Homo sapiens: one gene and its partners. The protein of the gene in region 1 interacts with the protein of each later gene in a biochemical or structural test. Each region holds a gene or a part of one and is shown in the gene's direction. Other genes may lie near its edges.

Region 1 (4,025 bases):
CCAGGAGCTCGAGATCAGCCTGGACAACATGGTGAGACCCGGTCTCCTTAAAAAAAGGAAAGGCCGGGCACGGTGGCTCACGCCTGTAATCCCAGCACTTTGGGAGGCCGAGGCGGGCGGATCATGAGGTCAGGAGACCAAGACCATCCTGGCTAACACAGTGAAACCCCGTCTCTACTAAAAATACAAAAAGTTAGCCGGGCGTGGTGACGGGCGCCTGTAGTCCCACCTACTAGGGAGGCTGAGGCAGGAGAATGGCGTGAACCTGGGAGGCGGAGCTTGCAGTGAGCCGAGATCGCGCTACTGCACTTCAGCCTGGGCGACAGAGCGAGACTCCGTCTCAAAAAAAAAAAAAGGAAAGAAGTCTTGAGAAGAATATTATCTGCCACTTTATAAGATATTACTTTTGCGAAGAATATTATCAGCCGGGTGCGGTGACTCACGCCTGTAATCAGCACTTTGGGAGGCCAAGGCGGGCGGATCACAAGGTCAGGAGTTCGAGACCAGCCTGTCGAAGATGGTGAAACCCCATCTCTACTAAAAAAATACAACAAAATACAAAAAGTAGCCAGGGGTGGTGGTGGGTGCCTGTAATCCCAGCTACTCAGGAGGCTGAGGCAGGAAAATCGCTTGAACCCAGGAGGCGGAGGTTGCAATGAGTCAAGATTGTGCCATTGCACTCCAGCCTGGGCAACAAGAGTGTAACTCAGTCTCAAAAAAAAAAAAAAAAGAATATTATCTGTCACTTTTTACCAGTGGCCTAGAGCTGTGTTTGAAAATGTCAAATGTGACCAACTGAGTCATGATGAGAGTCTAAAGCATTTTAGCATACACTGTTTATTTATATATATTTTTTTGAGTTGGAATCTTGTTCTGTTGGCCAGGCTGGTGTGCAGTGATGTGATCATAGCTCACTGTAGCCTTAAACACCTTGGCTCAAGCAATCTTCCTCCCACCTTAGCCTCCTGAGTAGCTGGGACCATAGGCGCATGCCACCATGCCCAGCTAATTATTATTATTATTTGGCGACGAAGTCTCGCTCTGTCGGCCAGGCTGGAGTGCAGTGGCACAGTCTCGGCTCACTGCAACCTCTGCCTCCTGGGTTCAAGCAATTCCTGTCTCAGCCTCCCGAATAGCTAGGATTACAAGCGTACTCCACCATACCCAGCTGATTTTTTTTGTTTTGTTTTTGTATTTTTAGTAGAGATGGGGGTTTTACCATGTTGGCCAGGCTGGTATTGAACTCCTGACCTCAAGTGATCCAACCACCTCGGCCTCCCAAAGTGCTGGGATTACAGGCGTGAGCTACCATGCCCAGCCTATTATTTATTTTATAGACAGAGTGTCCCTATGTTGCCCAGGCTGGTCTTGAACTCCTAATCTCAAGCAGTTCTCCTGCCTCAGCCTTCCAAAGTGCTGAGGTTACAGGCAGAACCACATGTAAATATATGGGCATTGCTGGTTCAAATTAGATGTACATTTAAATATTTTCAAACTGGCCTTCAAAAAGTTGTATTAATTTATCACTATTTGTGTATGAAAATGTCTCTTTCCGGCTGGACATGGTGGCTCATGCCCACCCGTAATCCCAGCACTTTCGAAGGCCGAGGCGGGTGGATCACCTAAGGTCAGGAGTTCGAGACAGCCTGACCAACATGGTGAAACCCCATCTCTCCTAAAAATACAAAAAAGTTAGCCAGTCATGGTGGCATATACCTGTAGTTGCAGCTACTTGGGAGGCTAAGGCAGGAGAATCACTTGAACCCAGGAGATGGAGGTTGCAGTGAGCCCAGATAATGCCACTGTACTCCAGAGCCAGCGAGACTCTGTCTCAAAAAAAGAAAGGAAAGAAAAGAGAGAGAGAGAGAAGGAAGGAGGGAAGGAGGGAGGGAGGGAAGGAAGAGAGAGAGGGAGGGTCTGTTTTCCTGTACCCTTACCAATGCCGTATGTTATTAGGGTTTCAACTTTTGGTAATCTGATAGGTGAAAAATTACAAATGCGTTATAAGTGGAGTTGCATTTTAAAAACTATGATCGGGGGAGGGATAGCATTAGGAGATATACCTAATGCTAAATGACGAGTTAATGGGTGCAGCACATCAGTATGGCACATGTATACATATGTAACCTACACGTTGTGCACATGTACCGTAAAACTTAAAGTATAATAATAAAAAAAAACAACTATGAGATTTGATCAGATTTTTACGTATTTATTGGCTCTTGGTATTTTCTTTCTTTTTTTTTTTTTTTTTTTTTTTTGAGACAGAGTCTTGCTCTGTCACCCAGGCTGGAGTACAATGGTGCAGTCTCGCTAACTGCAACCTCCGCCTCCCGGGTTCAAGCAATTCTCCTGGCTCAGCCTTCCAAGGAGCTGGGATTACAGGCATGCGTACCATTCCCAGCTAATTTTGTATTTTTAGTAGAGACGGGATTTCTCCGTATTGGTCAGACTGGTCTTGAACTCCTGACCTCAGGTGATCCGCCCACCTCGGCCTCCCAAAGTGATGGAATTACAGGCGTGAACCACTGCGCCCAGCCACTCTTGGTATTTTCAATGATGATTCTTGAGATTTCAGTGAGTCTTCAGGTGTCAGTGAATGGAATGGCTAAACATAAAAAGGCTTCAAAACTTGTGATACTGTGAATGTAGGATGTCAGTTCAAAAGAAATGATGTTGTGACTGTAGGGTATCACTGAGATGCCAGTGATAACCTGCCCATGTCACATGTTGACCCTTTTCTCTCTTAATTTCAGGTGATCATGGAGCTCAGCTTGGTCTCCATGGGGCTGGTGGTGATGGAATACATGATGACACAGCAGGTGGAGAGGAAGGAGAAAACAGCCCAGATGCCCAACCCCAAGCCGGTCGGAGGACCCGGCGGGAAGCATGCACCTGCCCCTACTGTAAAGACAGTGAAGGAAGGTGAGTTGACCCAGCCAGTTTCTTACAAATATAAAGAAAAATTAATAGATTTGGAGATAAGAGGAAGAAGATTAATTTTTTTTTTTTTTGAGACCGAGTCTGACTCTGTTGCCCAGGCTGGAGTGCAGTGGCGCAATCTTGGCTCACTGCAAACTCCACCTCCTGGGTTCACGCCATTCTCCTGCCTCAGCCTCCCGAGTAGCTGGGACTACAGGCACCTGTCACCACACCCAGCTATCTTTTTTTATTTTTAGTAGAGACAGGGTTTCACTGTGTTACCCAGGATGGTCTCGATCTCCTGACCTCGTGATCTGCCCGCCTCGGCCTCCTAAAGTGCTGGGATTACCAGCGTGAGCCACCATGCCCGGCAAAGGTTAATTTTTTTTTTTAGGATTTAAGACTCAGAGCTGGATGCATATAATCCCAGCACTTTGGGAGGCCAAGATAGGAGGATCACTTCAGCCCAGGAGTTTGAGACCAGCCTCAGCAAGAAAGCGAGAGCCGATCTCTACAAAAATTTAAAAATTATGTGGGAATATTTTACTGGCCATAAAAAGAGAAAATGAAAAAAAAAAAAATTTTTTTTTTTTCTGAGACAAAGTCAGTCTGTGTTTCCCAGGCTGGAGTGCAGTGGCACATTCTTGGCTCACTGCAACCTCCACCTCCTGGGTTCAAGCAATTCTGCCTCAGTCTCCCGAGTAGCTGGGACTACAGGCGTGTGCCACCACGCCCGGCTAAGTTTTTCTATTTTTAATAGAGACAGGGTTTCACCTTGTTAGCCAGGATGGTCTTCATCTCCTGACTGTGTGATCTGCCCACCTCGGCCTCCCAAAGTGCTGGGATTACAGACGTGAGCCACTGCACCTGGCCAAAAAAATTTATTTATTTATTTTTTTGTTTTGAGATGGAGTCTTGCTCTGTTGCCCAGGCTGGAGTGCAGTGGCACAATCTTGGCTCACTGCAGGCTCCGCCCCCTGGGTTCACGCCATTCTCCTGCCTCAGCCTCCCTAGTAGCTGGGACTACAGGTGCCCGCCACCTCGCCCAGCTAATTTTTTGTATTTTTAGTAGAGACGGGGTTTCACCGTGTTAGCCAGGGTGG
Region 2 (4,025 bases), on another chromosome or scaffold:
CACCAGTCGGAAGCAAATAAACAATTCAGGTGCCAGAGGAGCCGCTGACCTAAAAAAACCCGCCACAGGGTATTTCTGGGAGATTGTATGAGAATTTAATTTTGAAAATTGAGTCTCATGAAATGTAGGAAAAGATCTTATTAGGAAGAGAAACCATGTGGCCCAGTCCCTGAGACGGGAAGGGCCTGCGTGGTCCTGATGACATCTGCGGATCTTTTAAAATCATACGATCATGTCTGCGAAACCGGGATGCCACTTCCCACCTGGCTTCTCCCTGACCCCAGCTTGTTCCCTTGGAGGGCCGGTGGACTCCTCAGCCTTGCAGCAATGAAATCAGGCCTTGAGGCCACCCCACCCGTGACCTGCGGTGCTGTCCCCATGCAAGAAACTGCCTCGCTCCAGCCCCCAGCAGATCCTGTCCCAGCCCCCAGCCCTGGTCCAAGCCACCTCCACTCCCACCTGGTGACGGGCCACCTCCTTCATTCCGGGGCCCACCCACACTTCCCAAGTCCACACACAGTGGCCAAGAGTGAAGGCCGGCGAGGCCCCCGCATGACTCCCTCACCTGCACCCTTCACGAGCGGCCCCGCAGCCCGTCCCCACCAGCCCCTCTCTGCTGCCAGGGTGCTCCTGCTGCTCTTTGCTCTTTGCAAGACTGAACCTGCGGGAGGGTTCGGGCCCACGAAGGCCGCTTCTGTGGGGCTTCTGTCTAAGGAGGCCGCCGTCTGCCGAGGTGACTGCAGCCTCCGGCGCCTCTCTCCCTGCAGGTTGTTCCTGGTCATTGAGTACGTCAACGGCGGGGACCTGATGTTCCACATGCAGAGGCAGAGGAAGCTCCCTGAGGAGCACGCCAGGTGGGTGCGCGTGGACGGGGCCGGGTGGGTGCGCCCGGAGTTGGGGATGGGTGGGTGCGTGCGGTGTTGGGGGGCTGGGTGGGTGCGCACAGAGGGATGACGGGTGGGTGCGCGCGGAGTTGGGGGGCCGGGTGGGTGTGCGCAGAGGGGAGGTGGCTGGGTGGGGTGTGCACGGAGGGGGTATGACGGGGGCGGGGGGGGCGGGGTGCACGTGGAGGGGGCCGGGGACCTTCTCCAGGGGTCAGCAGGGAGCTCAAGGGAGGGAAGTCCAGGTAGGATGGCAGAGGGCATCATGTCCCCCACAGTGTGACGTCCCCTGCATTGTGACACATTCCATATTTGCTCCAGAGTCACAACATTTGGGAGGTCTCCTGAGTTATGGTGCCTCAGACCAGTCCCCCAGGCCCCACCCCTGAAGCAGCACCATGCCTCATCCGAGAGAAGTGAGAGTCTCCTGGGATTGTGCTGTCTTCATGGTGGCTCTGCCCTGGTTCTGCTCTTCACCCTGTTAGTGGCACAGCATGGCCAGCATTTCCTCAGCGTTAGGAGCAGAACGAGAGTGGTCTGTTTCTAGAGTGACCTGAGAGACTCCTTCCTGCCCTTCCCTTTCATCTCTGATATCTTCGGGCCTCCCCTGGCAGCCGAGGGGCCTCCAGCATGGTTCAGGAGCCTCCCCCGGCAGCCGCGGGACCTCCAGGACCGTTTGGGGGCTTATTTCAGCTCCCTGGACCTTTCCTGTCTTTTGTAGTTTCTCCTTTTCCTCATTTCCTTACTTAAGAACGTTGCATGCAGTTTTGTGAGTCACCTTAGATTGTTTCTGGCAATAGGACAGTAGGCAATAAATCTAGAACAGTACACTTCCCACAACGCTGTTTTTAAAAACTGTGGCAACACACAACATAAAAGGTAGCATTTTGGGGCATGGAATTCAGTGGCGTTGAATGCACCCCATGCTTTGCAGCCACTGCTGGCCCCCGTCTCATCTCCAGAGCACGCCCCTCTTCCCTGCTGAAGCTTGGCCCATCAGACACTCCCTCCCTGTCCCCCGCCCCAGCCTCACATCCTCACCCCAGACGGGCACGTCCCACTTTCTGTCCCTCTGATTCGAGGACTCTAGGGACCTCATCGGAGTGGAATCACAGTGTTGGTCCTTCGGTGGCTCATTTTCCTGAGCATAGCGTCCTCAAGATTCATCCGTGCTGTGGCCTGTCTCAGAATTGCCTTCCTTTTTCAGGCTGGATAATGCCCCGTTGGATGGAGGGGCCACACTTTGCTTATCCGTCCATCCCTCGGGGGGCACTTGAGTGGCATCCACATGTTGGCCATGGTGAACAGTGCTGCTGTGAACATGGGTGTGAAGTAATCTCTTGAACACCCTGCTTCCGGTTCTTTGGGGTATACACCCAGAAACTGAATTGCTAACCACATAAGAATTCCATATTTAGGCCGGGCGTGGTGGCTCACGCCTGTAATCCCAGCACTTTGAGAGGCCAAGGCGGGCGGATCACGAGGTCAGGAGATCGAGACCATCCTGGCTAACACGGTGAAATAACACAGTGAAACCCTGTCTCTACTAAAAATACAAAAAATTATCCAGGTGTGGTGGCGGGCGCCTGTAGTCCTAGCTACTCGGGAGGCTGAGGCAGGAGAATGGCGTGAACCTGTGGGCAGAGCTTACAGTGAGCCAAGATCGCGCCATTGCACTCCAGCCTGGGTGACAGAGTGAAACTCTGTCTCAAAAAAAAAAAAAAAAAGGTCATATTTAATTTTTTTTTTTTTTTGATGGAGTCTCGCTCTGTCACCCAGGCTGGAATGCAGTGGTGGGATCTCAGCTCACTGCAGCCTCTGCCTCCCAGGTTCAAGTGATTCTCCTGCCTCAGCCCCCAGAGTAGCTGGGACTACAGGTGTGCGCCACCATACCCGGCTAATTTTTTTGTATTTTTAGTAGAGACGGAGTTTCGCCATGTTGCCCAGGCTGGTCTTGAATTCCTGACCTCAGGTGATCTGCCTGCCTCGACCTCCCGAAGTGCTGGGATTACAGGTGTGAGCCACCAAGCCTGGCACCGTGTTTAATTTTCGAGGACCTGCCGGACTGTCTTCCGCAGCAGCGGCGCTGTTCTGCACTCCTACCACAACGTGCCATGGCTCCGGTCTTTCCCGCATGGAAGCTGTCGTGTTATTTGCCCGCTCCTCCCCTTGTGGAGGCTGCCACATCGTTCTCTGTGTCTTTGACAGCAGGCCATCCTAAGGCGCATGGGGTGGTGTCCTGGAGCTTTCATTGGCATTTCCCTCCCTGGCCCTGTGCACTGCACTTTCAAATCCTGGGCCTGGTCATTGAGAGGATGCCGGGCCCGTGGTGGGGCAAACGGGAGTGTGTGGCCCCCAGGCTGGAGCTGTTGGCGCAGCCTCTGGCACAGGCACTGCCCCCATGACGGCATCCCCACCCCCAGGTTCTACGCGGCCGAGATCTGCATCGCCCTCAACTTCCTGCACGAGAGGGGGATCATCTACAGGGACCTGAAGCTGGACAACGTCCTCCTGGATGCGGACGGGCACATCAAGCTCACAGACTACGGCATGTGCAAGGTGCGTGCCTTGGACCGCCTCCCCTGACCATCCCGCATGTGCGTCTCGGGGCGCCTGTCCCGCGGGGTAGTGTCTACAAGAACCCTCTCCCAGTAACTTTGCCCCCACAGGAAGGCCTGGGCCCTGGTGACACAACGAGCACTTTCTGCGGAACCCCGAATTACATCGCCCCCGAAATCCTGCGGGGAGAGGAGTACGGTGAGTGCCGCTGCCCTGGCCCCTCTCGGAGCACACAGGGCCAGAGATGGCTTCGGGCCTGGCCCAGCAGCCAGGGAGAGGTGTCCTTGACCATCTTACACCCAAAAGCCACACACTGTCTTTCCCAGCCGGATGTCATCATCTGGCCTCAGCCCCTTATTTGAATTCTGGAAAACCTCCCATGTCCACTTGAGCAGCTCCTTGGGGAGGGCACTGCACAGGATTCCTCCTGCCAGGGAGCCCCGGGGCACAGGGAGGGGAAAGACACAGAAAGCGGGGGTGGGACAGGGTGCAGCACCTGAGTCCCCGTGCTGCACGAGTGGCTGGGGGAGAAGCTGTTGTCTGGGGAGCCCCAGGGGGTGCAGGAGCGTGTGGACAGGACCCCAC
Region 3 (4,025 bases), about 23 Mb from region 1:
TTTGTCCAGGAGAATGAATTTATTCTTGAGGATATAGCATTTTGGGGTTCCTGCTTAATTTGGGAGGGTTACCATAAAGATAGCCACCGTGGACAGGCCCAGAATTTTAACTTTGGTTAAAACCAAAGTTCACGTTGCTGATAATTGGCAGTTGACCTCAGTGCAAAAGTGCCTTCCTTCTGCTCCTGTTTTGCCCTCAGTTTTGGGCTGGTGATTCCTTACTATCTTGTTAGCATTTCAGTGCTTTTAAGATTTTTAACAAAATGTTTTTGTTAAAAAACATCTGTACTTTTAATTCTTTTCCTTTTTTTTTTTTTTTTTTTTTGAGACAGGGTCTTGCTCTTACCCAAGCTGGAGTGCAGCGGTGTGATCTCGGCTCACTGCAGCCTCCTCCTCTGGGTTCAAGCAATTCTCCTGCCTCAGCCTCCTGAGTAGCTGGGACTACAGGTGTGTGCAACCACGCCCGGCTAATTTTTTGTATTTTAGTAGAGACTGGGTTTCACCATTTTGCCCAGGCTGGTCTCTAACTCCTAAGCTCAGGCAATTCGCCTGCCTTGGACTTTCAAAGTGCTAGGATTACAGGCGTGAGCCACTGCGTCCGGCCATATTTTTCATTGGTAGAATTGATCTGCATAATCTAGTTTGTCGCTTTCAGGAATGAAAGTTTTTCACAGAGATCTTGGAATGCAATTTAATGTATAACAAATAAGATTCTCACTGATTTTATTTAATGTCAACTGCAGTAAAATATTAATACAGGTATTAACCTAAACTTGTGTTTCTCAATGTGGTCTACCTGAGAACCACCTCTCAGAAGCTGAGTTTCTTGTTTAGAATGCAGATTTTTGGGTCCCACTTCCTCAGATGTTTTTCTGCTTTATATAGATGATGAAATAGAGCCAGAAGTTGTTTGTCTTAGTTTGTAGATTGCTACAAAGTTGATGTCAGCCCAAATGATCTGACTACAACTGACTAGAAAATTAGGTCTATCTTACAACCAAGAAATACAATGTAGCCAGAATGGGCAGGTTAGAGCAGCCTTCTCTGGAGGAGTAAATGCCTCCTGTTAATGTTCTGTAAATGTTCTGTCTTGGATCCTCTTTACTAAAGTTTCATTTTAAGAATTTAAACTGTAAATGTAATGCTGCAAATGGACATTGAGGTTAGCAGTGTAGCCATTCTGTGAACACATTAAAATGTTACAAAAATTTAAATTTGGAAGTTTTAGGTTTTGTTTCTGTTTTTGACAATTGCTGGGTTTAGTAGACACTATATATTAAACCTAGCAAATCTCAGAATAAATTTGTGTATTGGAAATTATTATATAAATCTGTGTGTTGGAAAACCAAATGCAGTCATGCACCACATAAATACTTAGCCATTATATTAAAGTTGCCTATGGTATTCAATACAGTCACATGCTGTATAGGTGTGTAGCCTGGGAGCAATAGTCTATATCATAGCCTAGGTGCGTAGTAGGCTATACCATCTAGGTTTGTGTAAGTATACTCTGATGTTTGAACAACAATACAATCACCCAGAGACACATTTCTCAGAACATATAATCCACACATGACTGTAATGGTGAATGGGAAATTAGTTCTCATTACCCCCAGTCCCTTCTTTCTCATTAGGTTACTCTGGTTAGGTTTTTGGTGTTTGTTTTCAGAAAGGGTTTATTTGTATTAAAGTATGTGCGTATATGAGTGGAGATATATATATATATATATATATATATATATATATATATATATATTTCCATATCCAAAGGGGATTTCGGCATACATCCTATACCTTGCTTTAGTGTTCCTTCATATCAACTCAGATCTGTTTCATTTGTGACTGCAAAGCATTCCATTTTTGCATATTCCATTATAGTACTAAGTTTATAATAAGCTTTGTGTGCTACCCCAAAGAAGACAACGCTATGATTGTCAAGATCAGATTTAATTCCTGTAATCATGAATTTTGTCAGTTGGGAGAGACAGACCATAGGTCAAACTAATTTATAATTACAGACTGAGACATCTTATGGTGGAAAGAAAAGAAAGCTTTATAGGAGTGTGTGTACAACCAAGAAATCTTACTTAACCGGAATGTGCAGGTTGGAGAAAGCATCTCTGGGGAGTGAAACTTTGAAATGAGAGCCAAAGGATGTGCAGGACTTGTTCAGAGCTGTGGAAGAACCTTCTAGGTGAACATGGAAAGCAAAGGCATTAGATTCTTTATAATTTTTTCATGGTAGAGCTCATAAGTGAATAAATCTGGAGATGGACATATTTTGTTTTTTTAATTTTTATGTTTTTAAGAGACAGTGTCTCATTGTGTTGCCAAGGCTTGTCTTGAACTCCTGGCCTCAAGCGGTCCTTCTGCTTCGGCCTCCCAAAGTGCTGGGATTGCAGGTGTGAGCCATGGTGCCTGGCTGAGATGGACATGTTTAAGGCTTTTGATATTCCTATTGTCAGGTTGCTCTCCAGAAAAGATACGGGAACACTAGCTGGAAATAAGGATGCATGTGCACTACAGGTTTCCCTGTATTAAAAAGAAGTTATTGATGATGTGGTAGACAAACTGGAATCCTACTTGGATTTCTTTGATGTCAGAGTTCAGTATTTTTCTTATTTTTGATTAATATTCATAATTGCTAAACACTTTGTAAATGCTGACTCATTACCCAGCATCACTAGAAAAATTCATCAGTACTATTAGGAATTATTTATAACAAATACAAAATATTTACAGAGTTAGATACATTAGGAAGAATAATTTTCTTTATAATTACTCTAAAGGATAGATACTAGGTCAGTAATAATGTTTCCCCCAAATATTAGCACTTAACTGCTAAAATCAGGATGTTTTCCATTTTTAACTCTTTGTTCATAGGCATAATACGTTGCTATGAAAGTAAACACATGCAGGATTTTGTGAATTAAATATGTATTAAGATTTTAATTTTTACCAGATAACTTGATTCTATTTATTCATAATTTTTTTAGAGACAGGGTCTTGCTGTATTTCCCAGGCAGGCCTTGAACTCCTGTGCTCAAAAGATCTTCCTGTCTCTTGGGCAGCTGGGATTACAGGCTCTTGGGCAGCTGGGATTACAGGCTCGTGCCACTGTGCCTGGCTAAGATAAACTTGATTTTAACATGGATTCTATCTAAACTTGGTTTAGTTTTTTTTGGTAATCTGTAGATTACCTGTGGCATTCTACCATTTTTTTCTGCCTGGATATAACACATCTGCTTTAAGATTTGTTTTTCCAAAAGCAGTATTCTCCAGGTTCATACTAATCTTTTAGTGAGAAGGAACTTAGGATATCCTCTGGTGAGTCTTAACAGTAAACTTACTCAGGTCTGGTAACCACAAGTCTTGACAATGTCCCTAGCATATCTAGGGGAAGCTGGAGGTTGGTGGTTGTCAGTTATCTAACATGAGGTACATGTACATTTGGAGAGATAGGGAAGGCTTACCTAACATTAAGATTGGGACCTAGAGCTTTTGAAATAGTCTAAATGGCTATTTGATCCAGGGATTAAGTCTTTTAAAAAGATATCCAGAGGGCATAGTGAGTACAGTAGGCATCAGATTTTGGTTTTCTTAAACATGAATTACATAAAATGAATATTGCTAAATACGAAATGGATAAATGGATTTAAGATGCTACGTAGTCTAAAAATTTAAGCAGAAATTGACCTTTCTTGATTGTTGAAAGAATTTGAATGAAGATCCTTTTGTACTGTTCCTTTCCTATGATTCTAGCAAATGTTAGTTTTGTTTTTAACCAATGGTGCTATTATCATAGTCTTTATACAACAGATTCTAAAAGCTTAGTGGTAACTTTTTTGTTTTAAGTAATATCCTCTGAAAAATTATTTTTGGTACTAGTAAGGAAGAATTTGCATGTTCCATGAGTTTTTTCTTCTTAACACTGATAGTATTTTAAAGGAAATAGACATTTCTTGGGATAGTTTTCAGTATGGTATTGATTTAAAGGGTTTTGGTTTCTTATTTTTTTTTAATAA
Region 4 (4,025 bases), on another chromosome or scaffold:
TTTTTAACTTCCTCATCTTCACTATCACATCCTATTTAAAATAATTTTCTGCTCTGCTTTTCTCTGTCAAACCCTAGCATTCTGCCATTACTAGTATCAGTGCTGATAGTGATTAATTTTTCAGTTTTCAACATTTTCTTGAGCCTGGATTTTTGGGGTCCTAATCAGAAAGGTCCAGAGAGAGAGGTGGATGGAGTGGCCAGGATGAACTGACATACCTCTGAAGAAGTTAATATGATAGGCCAGACGTACAGTGGTGTTTTGCTGGCATTTGAAATATGTTTGTGAAGAAATAAGCCACTACAATTAGTTAGACATTACCTAAAATGGAATAATTTTGAGCTTCCTCAAGTTAAAGTTTGCCTTTATAGATGACTGTAGGTTTTTTACCTGATAGGCCATGGGTGAGTTACACTTTTTGCCCATCTTTATAGTTGTGCATTATCAGATAAAATTGGTCCTTCATTTAGTATATGAAATCATAAGATGACATCTATGAATGTACCATGTTAATGTCTTCTTGTTCCTCTAGGTCAGCCTGCCAGTATACTGGGGGGCAGCCATAGTGAAGGACTGTTGCAGATAGCATCAGGGCCTCAGCCAGGACAGCAGCAGAATGGATTTACTGGTCAGCCAGCTACTTACCATCATAGTATGTACATACTTTAAAAAATCTTTTAAATAGTTGAGAAAAAAGTAGGCAGCCTTTATAAAAGCAAATTAACCCATGTGGGCCTTAATTTTTAGACAGCACTACCACCTGGACTGGAAGTAGGACTGCACCATACACACCTAATTTGCCTCACCACCAAAACGGCCATCTTCAGCACCACCCGCCTATGCCGCCCCATCCCGGACATTACTGTAAGCTCTTGTTTTTGTTGTAAGGGCTATTTTTTTTTTTTTTTTGGTAGGGCTTTGTTTTCTGTTTTTTAAAAATGTTTTTACATCTTTTATTCATCCTGTGATTTTGTTTCATTAAATAGTGCTTTTCAGTATTTTTTGTAAACAGTATTATTTTTCATAGTTATCCTACCTTTTTATTTTAGAGGAGTGATGTTTGCTAAATACATTTATTTCTCTGTTGCTAATGTTTCATTAACATCACATTGATTTCCATTCATTTGTTTGTTTGCTTTGTATATGTTCTTAGATCTCATCTGTGTCTTGTATATCCACGCATAATGGATTGAAACCCTTTGAGTGCTAAGTTCTCAAGGTTTCCCTCAGCGTAGTATTCAGTGTACTTTGGATAATGTTGAATCTATAGATAACTCTGTGCTGGCATGATTGGGAGGAATACCCTACAGATAACATGTAGTTTCAGGTAGAATAGGAGCATTGTTCATATGGCTTAGTAAAATCGAGAGTATAACTCTTATATACATTAAATCCCTTTCTTCTCATTATAATATTAATAGTACCAAAGAAAACTTAGAAAATATAGAAAAGTATAAATAAGAAAAGCAAAATTACCCTGAATCCTGCTACTCAAAAACAGCCACTTCTAATATTTTGTTATTTTCCTTCCAGTCATATAAACAGGTATATGTAAATTGACAGGGGCTCCTACTCTATGTGTATTGTATATATCTTGCTTCTTTTCAGTTATGTTACTATTTTTTCCATTTCTTAAGAGAATGTAATTTTTAATGGCTGCCTAGGCCGTCATAGTGTTGAAGGGTGCTGGGTTTGGACCTTTAACAGGCTGTGTGACCATTGACAAGTTATTTCACCTCATTAAGCCTCAAGAGTAATAATAGTAGTATCTACCTCAAGGGGTGTTCGTAAGAAGTAAACGTAATAATTTATGTGAGGTGTTTAGCACAGTGTTTTAACACATTACCAGTTTTCAATTATGTTAGCTATGATTCCATTAAATAAACATCCTTAATTAACATAAGCACTTGTTTTTAGAATAGACCTAACAGTTTATTATTATACATTGCATTATAAATTGTACTGTATTGGACGTTACATGAATAATTCATTTATGATCTGTATTAAATGTTGGATATAAAATTATGTGTAAATTGTGTAATAATAGCACTTGGCAGATAGCACTGAAATGTTAGTTATTAAATATCCACAAAAGTATTAATAGTTTAAGACTATTTGCTTATTGTAAACTTTTAAGTTCTTAGACATTGCATAAGCTTGTTTTAAACAATTCCTAACCTATAATAGTTATATTTAAGTAAGATTTACTGAAAGTTTTAGCATTAGACAACTTTTAGTAAATAAAAATGGAATTTTTGTTGTCTTTTCTTTAGGGCCTGTTCACAATGAGCTTGCATTCCAGCCTCCCATTTCCAATCATCCTGGTAAGTGTATTTCAAAATTGATTTCCTGTATTTAGATTGATTTAGTGGTGATTGAAACGCACAAACACAGGCTTTAATGGAATTATGGGGTCACTTCTCAGATGAGTACAATACTCATCATGACATGAGTTAATCAACAGTTTGAGTAGTCAATATAGTCACACATAGACTGTCTATATTTTATTCAGTTTAACTGTCCCCAAAAGAAAAGAACTATCTTTTCAGCTAAAATGAGAATTACAGAAATGCTGACTTCAGCATTGAATACATAAATATGCAGCAGAATAAAACTAGGTTTCAAAATAGAACAGCTGTAAAACTATAGCTTAAAAAGCCAGGAAAGAATCTTAAGTACATGCCGAAAAGAAAAATAATTCACTCTATTCAGGATCTCTGGTTAACTGGAATTTAGAAACTATTTGATTAAATTGTATGCAAAAGAGTAAATCGCTAAGTAGCTTTCTTCAGTTCAAAGTTTGTGTATAATTTTTGAAACTGTAGAGGTAATAAAACAGAAAACACTTGAAAATAAAATACTGAAAGTCCCTTGTAACACAAACATAGATTTTGAATTTTTTTCTCATCCTTTCGTATCTGTTTTTCTTAGCATAAAAAGATGCAAATATATTACTTCAGCTAATCACCTTAATTTTTTGGAAACTATAAACTCAATTTTCCTCCTAATTAAAAGAAAATTATGAAGAATTATATTTTTATTTTTACTTGTTTATTTTTGAGAGAGGGCCTGGCTCTGTTGCCCAAACTGGAGTGCAGTGGCATGATCTCAGATTACTACAGCCTTGACCTCCTAGTCTCAAGCGATCCTCTCACCTCAGCTTCTAGAGTAGCTGGGACTATAGGCAAGGGCCACCATGCCTGGCTAATGTTTGTATTTTAGTAGATAACAGGGTCTCACCATGTTGCCCAGGCTGGTCTCGAACTCCTGGGCTAAAGCAGTCCTCCTGCTAATAATTTTATTTATTTATTTATTTATTTATTTTTTTCCGAGATGGGATCTCGCTATGTTGTCCAGGCTGGTTTCGAACTCCTAGCCTCAAGTGATCCTCCTGTCTTAGCCTCCCAAAGTGCTGGGATTATAGACGTGAGCCACCACACCAAGCTTGAAAAATTAAAAAAATATATTTTTAAATGATTTTATTTTTGATCTTTGTGGGTACATAGGAGATGTATATATTTATGGGGCACATGAGATGTTTTGATACAGGCATATAATGCATGATAATCACATCATGGAAGATGGGGTATACATCCCTTCAAGCATTTATCTTTTGTGTTACAATCTATACTCTGTTAGTTATTTTAAAGTGTACAATTAAATTATTGGCTACAGTCACCCTGTTGTGCTGTAAAATATTAGACCTTATTCATTCTAACTACTTTTTGTACTATTAACCATCCTCACCTTCCCCCAATCCCCCACTACCTTTCCCAGCCTCTGGTAACCATCCTTCTACTCTCTGTCTCTATGGGTTCAATTGTTTTGATTTTTAGATCCCACAGATAAGAACATGTGATGTTTGTCTTTCTTTGCCTGGGTTCTTTCACTTAACATAATACCTCCAGTTCTATCCATGTTGTCTCAAGTGACTGAATCGCATTTTTTTTATGGCTGAATAGTACTCCACTGTGTATAAGTCAAGCATAAAGAATTTTAAGCATACCGGAATAATACAGGAAGTT
Region 5 (4,025 bases), on another chromosome or scaffold:
CAAGAGTTCACACAGACTAAAGAATGAATGTCATCAGGTTTCTGTTTAAATATCTTTTTTCTGAAGCTACTAATGTACTTGAGGCTTTGCCATTTAACTCAGATGCAAAATTTCAGCAATAGCAAATAATTTCTATTGTGCTTTCTAGGTATACACATACCTCCTTCCATTTGTCAACAGGAGAATAGATTAAGCAGCTTCCAAAAGTCTAAATGAATTGAGAATTGTCTCAATATCACAATCAAGATTTTAAGGTCTGGAAGTTTATGTAAAATAATCTCAGCCTAATGTTTCTGGAAGTTGACAAGGAAGCCTCATGTTTCTGGAAGTTGTATTAGGGAGTATATACAAAAAAAATTTAGAAGCTGTGATCATAACTCCAGTCTGAACCTAGCAATATGAGGCTGACAAATAGTACCCTACTTGCCTTTTTCTGTAAAACACCCAGATCAACAAGATTATCTAAGTGAATCCATTTTACATTTGAGGAAAACTAACATCCACTGGCATGTCTGGAGAGTGAAACATCAAGACCAGACCTTGACTCCTGGCTCCTAATTCAGTGTTTCTTCCACCCCATCATATCGGTGGGAACAGTCTGAAACTAAGATTGGGGAAACAAGTTAGCAACGAAAAAGATCCAGACCATTCTGTAACTGAAATGGAGAGTGCGAATATAAAAGGAATTTAACAGGACATGTTGGGGAATAGCAACACATTGCTTTGTTTGCCTTTGAGGTAGCAGGTAATGCCAGCAGCCAAAGCTACAAAGGAGAAGCAAGAAAACAGTAAGAAGCAACAAAGTATATGAAATAGGATTTTAGAGTCAGAGATGCTTGGATTTGAATCCTGGCTCCCATATCCACCAGTTTTTTGTTTTGTTTTGTTTTGAGACAGTCTCACTCTGTCGCCAAGCTGACACTTGCACTGGCGCAATCTCGGCTCACTGCAACCTCCGCCTCCCGGGTTCAAGTAATTCTTCTGCCTCAGCTTCCCAAGTAGCTGGGAGTACCGGTGTGTACCACCACGCCTGGCTAATTTTTGTATTTTTGGTAGGAACAGGGTTTCACCATGTTAGCCAGGCTGGTCTTGAACTCCAGACCTCAAGTGATCCCCCTGCCTCGGCCTCCCAAAGTGCTGGGTTTACAGGCGTGAACCACCGTGCCCAGCCAGAAAAAATATTCTTATGAAAGTGAATTAAAACAAGGATGTCATAAAGCGCCTAGCTCATAGTAGGTGCACAATAAATTCAGTTGATTCTCCTTTTCTCCCTTCCCCCAAAGTAAAGTGGTGTTAAATTTCCCAAGGCAAAATAATTACTTAAAAGAAGATCCAGACCGGGCACGGTGGCTCATCCCTGTAATCCCAGCACTTTGGGAGGCCCAGGCAGACAACACTTGAGGTCCGGAGTTCAAGACCAGCCTGGCCAACATGGTGAAACTCTGTCTCTATTAAACATACAGAAATTAGCTGGGTGTGGTGGCAGGTGCCTCTAATCCCAGCTACTCAGGAGGCTGAGGCAGGACAATCACTTGAACCCAGGAGGCAGAGGTTGCAGTGAGCTGAGATTGTTCCACTGCACTCCAGCCTGGGTGACAGAGCGAGACTCCATCTCAAAAATAAAATAAAATAAAATAAGATCCCACTTTGCCACTCTTCGTGGCCCAGGGCTAAAGCAGTGGCATGCTTTGCTTTCATAACTCTGCAGCTTCTGCTACAAAAGCTAACATCTTCCTGGAGGATGTTAATGTGTTTCCCTCTTTAACAGCAGCGGGAGGTGATGTGGCAATTGTGTGCCATCAAAATTACAGAAGCTATACAGTATGTGGTGGAGTTTGCCAAACGCATTGATGGATTTATGGAACTGTGTCAAAATGATCAAATTGTGCTTCTAAAAGCAGGTATGTGCTTTGCAAGTGAATTTTGAGATCTCTTCCTAACCTGCTTTCACCCGCTTATTAAAGAAATGCTTGGTAAGGAAGGTGTCGGGAACAGTTTTTCTCCAATGATAATAGCTCAGGTTTTTCTTAGCAGAAATGGAGTTCTTTTCAAAGGTTTTAAGATATATTCAGGAAACATTCCCCCCACTTTTCTTCTCTTCTGGGTGAAAAGATTAATTTGAAGGTCACCTACATTCCCAAATTTTCCCATCACGTGTGTTTTGTTTCTACACTCCAAGTCCTCCGAGTTTATGATGTTAGGAAGAAGAAAGTAGAACTCAGAAAGATATACTTGTTTTTGATTCTTGGTTTTAGTACATATGAATAAATGCTTTCCTAGCAACTCTGAGACTCTGCATTGCGAGGTAGAAGAGTGCTAAGGAAGTAATTTATAAATCAACCCTCACTTCAGTTAAACAGGGCTTAGCTTCAGCACAACAGTCTTTTAATTACATAGAAAACTCTGCCCTTTTGGATAGACAGCTGATGTGACTGAGAACCCGCTAGCTAAACTGCACACGACACCCACCATGCTGTTGCAGAAGGAGTCTCTACATGAGCAGCTTAGAAACAAACTCACTAACATCAGATGACCCAAATGACCCAAACCATTTCTGCCTCTGCTTAGGTTCTCTAGAGGTGGTGTTTATCAGAATGTGCCGTGCCTTTGACTCTCAGAACAACACCGTGTACTTTGATGGGAAGTATGCCAGCCCCGACGTCTTCAAATCCTTAGGTAAGGGGATATCAAGGTGCCTTTTCTTCAAATCAGGGCTATAGGAAAAGATGCGGGTTGAGTGAAAGCTCTGCTTGGACAAAATGAAAACTTTATTTAGAAACAAAAATTAAGGGGTTTTATACCTATTTTACTTTCTAGTTAGTCACTGTAGAAAAGTCATATAGCTCAAAAGTTTTTTGTCTACATTACTTGTAAAGATGTAGAGTTTCATTTTATCTAGTTGGTAATCAAAGGGATTTATATGACGTGTCCTTCCAGTTCCCTTCCAGATTTTAAGAAACCAGATTTGCTGGTGATATATTATTCGGATGACCTTTAGGATGTGAGCTGATACATAAAATTAAGCAAAGGGCAAAAGCTTTGCCCTTCCATCCCCCTCAAACAGTAACCATTAATGAGACTGAAATGCAGATATCAAAGAAATAAAAGTTACAGTTAAGTGAAACCATGATATATAATTTATAATAAATAATTTGGGGCCAGGTGCGGTGACTCATGCCTGTAATAGCAGCACTTTGGGAGGCCAAGGCAGGCGGATCACCTGAGGTCAGGAGTTTGAGACCAGTCTGGCCAACATGGCAAAGCCCATCTCTACTAAAAATACAAAAATTAGCTGGGCATGGTGGCACACGCCTGTAGTCCCAGCTACTCAGGAGGCTGAGGCAGGAGAATCACTTGAAACCGGGAGGTGGAGGTTTAACTGAGCTGAGATCATGCCACTGCACCCCAGCCTGGGTGACAGATTGAGACTCTGTCTCAGAATAATTAATAATAAATTTTGGATTTCTATAATTTAAATAAAATGAACATAGTTATTAAGAAGAATGGATAAGTATCTAAAATGAGTGATTTTTTTAAAAGTTATATGACAGATGATATATATAATGAACTGTCATGTAGCACATTGTCATTTAAATATATACATTTATATGTAAAATATGCAAATCTGAAGGAATAGACACCAAACTTAACCAGTCTTTTGGAAAACGGATTATTATTCTAGGGGACTTTCACATTCTGTGTTTTCAGGTTGGTAAATAGTTATAATAGTTTTACCACCAGAATATGTCATTTGTTAACATTTTTAAGGATGTTTCAGATGAAATAGAGTTGAAAACAAAAATGAGTTAATTTAACATATCAGTTAGAATATGGCTATTAGACTCTATAGGTTAAAAGTGTAGGCTCTGAAATCAGTCAGCCTAGCTTTGCTTCTTCTTAGGCTGTACTTTCTACCTGTGTGACCTTAGGTGCATTACTTTCCTCTCCAAGTCTCAGTTTCCTTACCTCTAAAATTGGGATAATAATAATCCCTCCTTCATAGAGCTGTTTTAAAATAAGAAGAA
Region 6 (4,025 bases), on another chromosome or scaffold:
AGGATTAGTAGACTGATAAATATTATAGAAGCATAAACTTTATTTAATTTAGAGACGGAGTCTCACTCTGTCGCCCAGGCTGGAGTGCAGTGGTACAATCTTGGCTCACTGCCACGTGCATCTCCCAGGTTCAAGTGATTCTTGTGCCTCAGCCTCCCAAGTAGCTGGGATTGTAGGCACTTGCCACCATGCCTGGCTAATTTTTTTGTATTTTTAGTAGAGGCGGGGTTTCACCATGTTGTCCAGGCTGGTCTCAAAACTCCTGTCCTCAAGTGATCCAGCCGCCCCAGCTTCCCAAAGTGCTGGGATTGCAGGTGTGAGCCACTGCACCCGGCCCTAGAAGCATAAATTTTAGAATAAAGTTATTTTACTGCTTTCTATTCTAGCACTTACCCCAAGGAAACAAGAAATGTTGTCTTACTGCCTGTCAATGTTATTTGATTGCTTTGGTCAGTGGGCCAGATGTTGACATTTATTAATATGAAAATTTCTTATACACAAGATTGTAATAGAATGTTTATCATAAAGATAGTAGTAATACTCAAGATTCAAATTCATAAAATTGAAGGTATAATTTTTATTATTGCTTTTGCTTATAATTCTGGTTTATCAGACATTAAGGACAACTAGGAAAGAACTGGGCCCCATGTTATTGCCACAAATATGTTTTTTGAAGAATACTTTTCTAGGTTTTGTTATAAAACTACCCAAACATCTTGATTCAGTTTCTTGGGGGAAGAAATGGTCATGTTGTTTTGCAAGTGAGAGAAACAAAGTTAATAGAAGTAATCAAGGTGTTCTCTTGGGTCCATTTTTGTTAGGGATAAAGATGTACAGTTGTAGGTTATTTGAATGTTTCTTCTGTGTCAGAGGAATTTGATACAACAGTAAGAAGGTGTTTCAGAGACAGAAGTGATTACTCTCACCAGAATGCAGTTGCTGTTTAAGACAATGGGAGAATGCTTGTTTGTGTATTTCTGGGTTTATAAAGGCAAGACTTTCACCCAGTTAACAGGGCTAGGTTCTCTGTTAGTTTTGAGAGTCACTGTGTGCTCTCTCATGTCAGTTGCATCCATCCTCCCTAGCTTGAGGCCTTTTTGTGGATAATATACATGCTGCCTTCACGGGTATGAAACAGGTGTTTACACAGTGTTAAAAATATAATACTTTACCAACTTGCCTTCTTCAAATATTCTGAGGGCTGTTTTTAATGCCATCTCTCTCTCTCTTTTTTAAGCTCTGCTTATGATAATGTCAACAAAGTTCGAGTAGCTATCAAGAAAATCAGCCCCTTTGAGCACCAGACCTACTGCCAGAGAACCCTGAGGGAGATAAAAATCTTACTGCGCTTCAGACATGAGAACATCATTGGAATCAATGACATTATTCGAGCACCAACCATCGAGCAAATGAAAGATGTGTATCCTTTTTAGGCAACTGGCCAATTCCACTGCTTGGTAACCTTGTTGAGTAAATAGAACTTGAAATTTCCTGAACTTAAAGGAAAAGTGCATTAAACATGCTAAAGGGAAAATCGTAATCTGTTTGCTATTTACTCCCTAAGTCTAGTCATGGAAAATCTTGGTTAACTCTGTTTGCAGTCATGTTTCTTCTGTCCAAGGGATGGTTTGTTGTGATGATGAAAAGGTAAAGGGAAGATCAGTAGTAGACTAAGAAAGAGGGTGCCCTGGCTATCTACCTGGTGAAATCAGGACTGTCCTGATCTTAAGAGTCAGGTTACCACTTTAGGTCTCAGTTTCCCCACCTTTAAAATGAAGGAACTGGTCGTCATGATCTTTAAGGTCAACTGAGGTCTGAAATTATGTGATTAACTCTGACCAACATTTAGAAATCTGGACTGAACAGATCTAGAGGATGCTGCCTGGGTAAAGGCTCCATTTGAAAGATAGAGAGGTTAAGTATACTGAAGAGGATCTGCCAGAAGGGAAAGGGTTATACAGCACTCCTACCAGTTTACCCAATTTGTATTCCGCCCCTCCAGGGTGCGGGAGCTCGCTGTTTCTAGGCAGCCCTTTCCATTTTTAAACAGCTCTGTTAATAAGTTGTAGTGATATTTGAAGTGAAATGCCTCCTGCCACTACCACCTGTTGGTCCTGCTTTACTTTTTGCCATGAAAATAAGCCTCTCTCAGATGACAGATTTTTAAATCATGTTTCCTTTGAATCCCATGCTGCGCCTCCTATAGCATAAATCTGTAAGAAACAGAGACTAGTGTTTACACAGAAGTGAGTAAAAGAAATGTAGAAATACTGCTAATGAAATAATACTATGATGAAGTTAAAGGCTAAATGCTTTAATAATTTAATTTCTGTGAGAAAGAAAGTAGCCATAGCTAAACTTTTAGGTAGTTAAGTACGTGACCAGGCAAGAAAGCATGAGGAGGAAAACTAGCACAAACCCCTTCTTAGAACGACTTGCCCATAGTCTTACTTATTTAAGATCTTAACAGTAATGGAAGAGTCAAGAAAATAGACTTAGGGTTGGATTTACTAGTAAGAGTATGTTTCTAGACCTGTATTTCTGGAAGTTTTATGTTTGGCTTTTGAGGAGCTTGGGAGAGGAGGGGAGCGGCAACAAGAAGTAAAAAGAATAGTGACATTACAGGTTACTGGACCAAACAGAGGAGGGAGTATCTGCTACTTACAGGCTAACAGTGTTTCCAGCAAACCTTGGAGGGGGTTCGTTGATGGTGGACAATTTAGAGAGCAAAGAGGTTGAGACTTCAAGATTGACCAGAATTTCCCTAACAGCCTGTTTCAGATCTCAGTCTAGGCCCATAGCCGCATCAGTCAGATGTAATGCTGGAATGCCTGCCATCTCACAGGACCTAAAAGGAGTTAACGACTTCAGATTCTTTCCATGAAGGAAACCAAGTTTTCCTCAGTTTCTTCTTTCCTTTAAGGGCTTCATGGTGTAATGATGGACTGTTTGGGAAGAGAGTCAAGAGAGGATGCATTTTTGTTTTCAATGCTTTGCTAAATGTGACCAGCTAATTGGTGTTTTACCTTAACCTGTGCAAACAGATATATAGTACAGGACCTCATGGAAACAGATCTTTACAAGCTCTTGAAGACACAACACCTCAGCAATGACCATATCTGCTATTTTCTCTACCAGATCCTCAGAGGGTTAAAATATATCCATTCAGCTAACGTTCTGCACCGTGACCTCAAGCCTTCCAACCTGCTGCTCAACACCACCTGTGATCTCAAGGTCAGCCAGGTTATTTACTATTAAGGTGATATATATTGAAAAACCCTTTCACTGAAGCATAGTTATATTTGTCATTATTCATATTTTAAATTACACCAGAAATACCCAAAAACATGTTTATGGCAAAAATGCTAATAAAGTGTGGTAGTCCTCTTCTTCTTCCTTATCCCATTGCTCCTTTCTCCCCAGAGATACCTTTTTTTTTTTTTTCTTAAAGACAGAGTCTTAGTATGTTGCCCAGGCCGGTCTGGAACTCCTGGGCTCAAGCAGTCCTCCTTTCTTGGCCTCCCAAAGTGCTGGGATTATGTATGTGGGCCACAGCACCAGGCCGTGATAACTAACTACTATAACAAATTGGTGGCCAGTTGCGGTGGCTCACGCCTGTAATCCTAGCACCTTGGGAGGCCAAGGTGGGCCTTATCACCTGAGGTCAGGAGTTCAAGACCAGCCTGGCCAACATGGCGAAACCCCATCTCTACTAAAAATACAAAAATCAGCCGGGCGTGGTGGCATGCGCCTGTAATCCCAGCTACATGGGAGCTGAGGTAGGAGAACCGCTTGAACCTGGGAGGCGGAGGTTGCAGTGAGCCGAGATCACACCACTGCACGCCAGCCTGGGTGACAAAGCAAAACTCTGTCCTAAAAAACAAAGTGTATTTTCTCCCAAAGTATTTTCTATGCTCTTGCATACATGTGTATTTTTATACTTTATATAGATAAACAGGATCACGTACATTATGTGTTAGTTTTTTTGTTCGTTTGTTTGTTTTTTGAGATGGAGTCTCGCTCTG
Region 7 (3,882 bases), on another chromosome or scaffold:
TAATCTGGTTGAACCTGTTGGGGAGGAGTATGTGTATGGGGCCGGTTCTCTTCCTCTGGTTTCATGAGAAACATCAACACTGGTAACTACAACAAAAAAACCGGCTTAGTGATCATCACTCATTGTGGCCCTTGGCCCAACATTGGGAAAGCCAGGAGAGGTTTCACCCTCCGACTTTTCCTCTGAATTCTTACCATTCTAGAAACAGATTTCCTCTAACTTCCGTAAGGACACGGATGCTTAATTACAAAAGGTTTTGCCCCTGTAGTGACCGGGCAGCAATGTTATCTGTCCTTCATTCTTGCATGTTTTTGGAAATTGCTTTTGCTTTTACTTTTGGTCGTCATGGCAATCACGTGCCTTCTCTGGTTCATTTTGCACAGACCTGCCTAGAGCTGGAACGTTACCTCCAGAGCGAGCCCTGCTATGTTTCAGCCTCAGAAATCAAATTTGACAGCCAGGAAGATCTGTGGACCAAAATCATTCTGGCTCGGGAGAAAAAGGAGGAATCCGAACTGAAGATATCTTCCAGTCCTCCAGAGGACACTCTCATCAGCCCGAGCTTTTGTTACAACTTAGAGACCAACAGCCTGAACTCAGATGTCAGCAGCGAATCCTCTGACAGCTCCGAGGAACTTTCTCCCACGGCCAAGTTTACCTCCGACCCCATTGGCGAAGTTTTGGTCAGCTCGGGAAAATTGAGCTCCTCTGTCACCTCCACGCCTCCATCTTCTCCGGAACTGAGCAGGGAACCTTCTCAACTGTGGGGTTGCGTGCCCGGGGAGCTGCCCTCGCCAGGGAAGGTGCGCAGCGGGACTTCGGGGAAGCCAGGTGACAAGGGAAATGGCGATGCCTCCCCCGACGGCAGGAGGAGGGTGCACCGGTGCCACTTTAACGGCTGCAGGAAAGTTTACACCAAAAGCTCCCACTTGAAAGCACACCAGCGGACGCACACAGGTCAGTGCCCACGCGGGCCCCGGAGGGCGGCCGCTGGTGGGCGCCACTGCATTGCACCAGCCCTGGAGGGAGCCGGGCCTGGCTGCACAGGATGTGGTCAGGGCAGACAAATCCTCACTTCCTCAGATGTTTTCCACCAAAGCATTAGGTCTTTTTGGAGTTCAGAGTAGAATCCTAAAGACTGGACTTTTGAGTTGGATAAATGTGTAACAATTTTCAGATTAAACAAACAAGAGACTAGATCCTTTTCTCCACGGACACCCAAACCTCCACCCCCCACCCCTTAGTAGTGCTGGGGATCCGAGGCCACTGCCCCTTCACCAGTGCACTCGCACGAGGCTACCTCGAGCGGCCCTGGGGTTTCCTAAATGAAACTCAAGGGTCAGGACAGAGGGTTGCTGGGCAGCGTGGAGTGTGTGGGTTTGATGCTGACGGCCCGAGGCCCGAGTGGGACCGGCCTGCTCTGTAAGCAGCAGCATTGATCAGCGAGTGTTTCCTGAGAACTTCTCCGTGTCTCATGCAGCCTTTGTTTCTGATACCGCTTGAAACAGTTTCTTAATGAAATGCCATACCTAGGTGAAAGTGCTATTTAAAAATACCTTGACATGTTCTAGGATAATTGGTGAGGAATCACAGAACATTTAGAACTGGGAAGGGTCTTAGTGATCACGTGATGCAGGCTCTTCTCTTATCAGTAGGAGAGCAAATTGCTGAGAGTCAGTCCCAGACAGGCTTGGTGACAGCTGAGATTGAGATCCGGGTGGCCCAATATCCAGGCCCAGGCCTGTCTCAACATACCCTGAGATTGGCTTGACAACTTTGTTTTCTCAGGTAGCACTTGTAGTAAATTCATATTTATGATTTGACCAAGGAATGAAGTGAACCCAGTTGTTCAATTGCCATTTAGAGAATGATTCCGGGGCCCTGTACTGGGGCTTTCCAGAAGCTCGTAACTTCAGCTTTGTAGAAAGGTAGAACGTCCCTGAGGAAACTGCAGAGGCACATTCCATAGGGAAGTGAGGATGGAACAGAAGTGTGTTTGGGAGAAACAGTTGCCATGAAGAAAGCAATAGCTCTGCCTTTGCCGGGGCTGTGGGTCCGGCAGGCTGACACCTCATCCCGCAAGCATTTTGCTGGTCTGAGTCGTGGTCGTTCTTCCACGTTAACTTTGATGACAGCACCATGGGCTTGGCTGAAGCTGTGTCCCTTGGACAGCAGTGGGAGGCCTGAGACTGGGTCAGGAGAGAGCTGCTGTTGTCTCTCTGAGGCTGCCAGTTGTTGTGTGTTACCGATGCCAGAAGCCACTGGGTCCCTGGCCTTGCATCCCACCACTGTGTGTGTTGTTGAATTTCCCCTTTCCGTCTGCGGGTCAGTGAAGTCATGGGCTGCTTGTCCTGTGCTCTCTCCCCAGGAGAAAAGCCTTACAGATGCTCATGGGAAGGGTGTGAGTGGCGTTTTGCAAGAAGTGATGAGTTAACCAGGCACTTCCGAAAGCACACCGGGGCCAAGCCTTTTAAATGCTCCCACTGTGACAGGTACGTGCCTGAGGACAATGCTGGGCAAGGAGCGTGGGGCCTTGGGAATGTGATGACCAGGGTTGAGTAGGTGTGCAGGGCACATTCGAAGGAAGGCATGCAGTTTCCTATGTGTGAACATTTCTTTTCAAGCCTGGGACTTTTTAGAAAGTTTCTGGTGTGCTCATTGTCCATGGTTAGGAAGAACTGTTCCACATACACCTGACATTGGAGTCAGTTTATTGATATGTTTGGAGATTGGCCTTTCAACAGTTTTCATATTTGAAGAATTAGAAATGAAGTCCGTTCAGATTCTCCAAAGAACCTCCAGCCACTGGTGGGGGACATTCTTAATTCACATTCCTATCAGTTGGTATCTCCTGTCCCTGAAGACACTGATGAGGCTTGGGAGGAGAATCCCACCTTTCCCTGCAGGGGGTTAGGCTGGGCAGGGCAGGGAGGTGAGGGCGCTGGTCCAGAACACTGGCAAGGGATGGGAACCTAACTTCTTCTGTGCTTCTGATTTGCCCTTGCAGGTGTTTTTCCAGGTCTGACCACCTGGCCCTGCACATGAAGAGGCACCTCTGAGGGAGCAGAGAGGTGGATCCTGTAGGCTAAAAGGCTTCCAGGCTGAGAGCCGGCCGTGGAAGGAGGGATGCGTGTTCCAGCCAAAGCATGCCGTTCTGCACCCTACCCAGTTGCCTCCAGGGCCTCTCCTTGGAAGGTCTTTTGAGGGCTAAAAAGGTCCTGTAAGAAGCGGCATAGCACCCGTGGTGCATGGTATGTGGGTGACCCTGGACTCGCCACTGGTACCCGCCCTTCCGAGCGGCGCCTAAGCCTTTGCCGTGAGCATGCACACTGAGAATGCTAATGGTTGGGTTGATTGTATGTTGAGGATCTATTACTGACCGTATGATGAGGCCAACTTTTTTTCCTTGTGGTTAGCAAGACTGCAAGAGATGGAAAAAAAGTAGTTTGAATGTTTTGTGTGTAAGGAGTATACCATGAGATGAGATGACCACCAATCATTTCCTTGGGGGGAGGGGGTGTCTGCACCTTAGAAAAAAAAAGAAAAATCAAAAAAACAAAAAAACAAAAACAAAAAAAGAAGGAAAATCTTGGAGGGTGGGCGTGGGAACTCAGGACCCCAGAGTGGCGAGTGGTGTGGGGAGGGAGAGCCTCTCTCCCCCTTTTCTGTGTGAGAGGAACTCTTAGTGTCTGGTGCAGCTATTAAATGTGCAATGTGTCAAGTAGCTTGTTTTACACGCTACAACATAGCTCATTTGTAACCCATTGTATAAGCTGTGTATTTACAAATATAACACAACAATTTAACTTTTCCTTAGAATACAAAAAGTCATGCATGGTCTGGGGAACTATATGCTTTTCCATTTTTAAGTCAGGACTGCAA

What was found.
Region 2: of the proteins of SP1 (region 1) and PRKCZ, one has a biochemical effect on the other in vitro, tested with the Homo sapiens proteins (one study listed by BioGRID).
Region 3: the proteins of SP1 (region 1) and NAP1L1 form a complex in vitro, tested with the Homo sapiens proteins (one large-scale study listed by BioGRID).
Region 4: the proteins of SP1 (region 1) and SMAD4 form a complex in vitro, tested with the Homo sapiens proteins (one study listed by BioGRID).
Region 5: the proteins of SP1 (region 1) and RORA form a complex in vitro, tested with the Homo sapiens proteins (one study listed by BioGRID).
Region 6: of the proteins of SP1 (region 1) and MAPK1, one has a biochemical effect on the other in vitro, tested with the Homo sapiens proteins (2 studies listed by BioGRID).
Region 7: the proteins of SP1 (region 1) and KLF6 form a complex in vitro, tested with the Homo sapiens proteins (one study listed by BioGRID).

What each region holds. Positions count from the first base shown.
Region 1 is NC_000012.12:53,403,829-53,407,853, forward strand, and holds part of SP1 (transcription factor Sp1), read left to right. Parts: intron 1-2,756; coding exon 2,757-2,925; intron 2,926-4,025. UniProt on the Homo sapiens protein: Transcription factor that can activate or repress transcription in response to physiological and pathological stimuli.
Region 2 is NC_000001.11:2,168,751-2,172,775, forward strand, and holds part of PRKCZ (protein kinase C zeta type), read left to right. Parts: exon of another isoform or gene 1-700; intron 701-743; coding exon of another isoform or gene 744-767; coding exon 768-854; intron 855-3,304; coding exon 3,305-3,440; intron 3,441-3,550; coding exon 3,551-3,638; intron 3,639-4,025. UniProt on the Homo sapiens protein: Calcium- and diacylglycerol-independent serine/threonine-protein kinase that functions in phosphatidylinositol 3-kinase (PI3K) pathway and mitogen-activated protein (MAP) kinase cascade, and is involved in NF-kappa-B activation, mitogenic signaling, cell proliferation, cell polarity, inflammatory response and maintenance of long-term potentiation (LTP).
Region 3 is NC_000012.12:76,074,281-76,078,305, reverse strand, and holds part of NAP1L1 (nucleosome assembly protein 1-like 1), read left to right. Parts: intron 1-4,025. UniProt on the Homo sapiens protein: Histone chaperone that plays a role in the nuclear import of H2A-H2B and nucleosome assembly.
Region 4 is NC_000018.10:51,057,593-51,061,617, forward strand, and holds part of SMAD4 (mothers against decapentaplegic homolog 4), read left to right. Parts: intron 1-532; coding exon 533-652; intron 653-747; coding exon 748-864; intron 865-2,273; coding exon 2,274-2,324; intron 2,325-4,025. UniProt on the Homo sapiens protein: In muscle physiology, plays a central role in the balance between atrophy and hypertrophy. When recruited by MSTN, promotes atrophy response via phosphorylated SMAD2/4.
Region 5 is NC_000015.10:60,501,411-60,505,435, reverse strand, and holds part of RORA (nuclear receptor ROR-alpha), read left to right. Parts: intron 1-1,768; coding exon 1,769-1,901; intron 1,902-2,568; coding exon 2,569-2,676; intron 2,677-4,025. UniProt on the Homo sapiens protein: Nuclear receptor that binds DNA as a monomer to ROR response elements (RORE) containing a single core motif half-site 5'-AGGTCA-3' preceded by a short A-T-rich sequence.
Region 6 is NC_000022.11:21,805,059-21,809,083, reverse strand, and holds part of MAPK1 (mitogen-activated protein kinase 1), read left to right. Parts: intron 1-1,237; coding exon 1,238-1,420; intron 1,421-3,044; coding exon 3,045-3,234; intron 3,235-4,025. UniProt on the Homo sapiens protein: Serine/threonine kinase which acts as an essential component of the MAP kinase signal transduction pathway. MAPK1/ERK2 and MAPK3/ERK1 are the 2 MAPKs which play an important role in the MAPK/ERK cascade.
Region 7 is NC_000010.11:3,778,716-3,782,597, reverse strand, and holds part of KLF6 (Krueppel-like factor 6), read left to right. Parts: intron 1-383; coding exon 384-957; intron 958-2,368; coding exon 2,369-2,492; intron 2,493-3,007; coding exon 3,008-3,059; 3' UTR 3,060-3,882.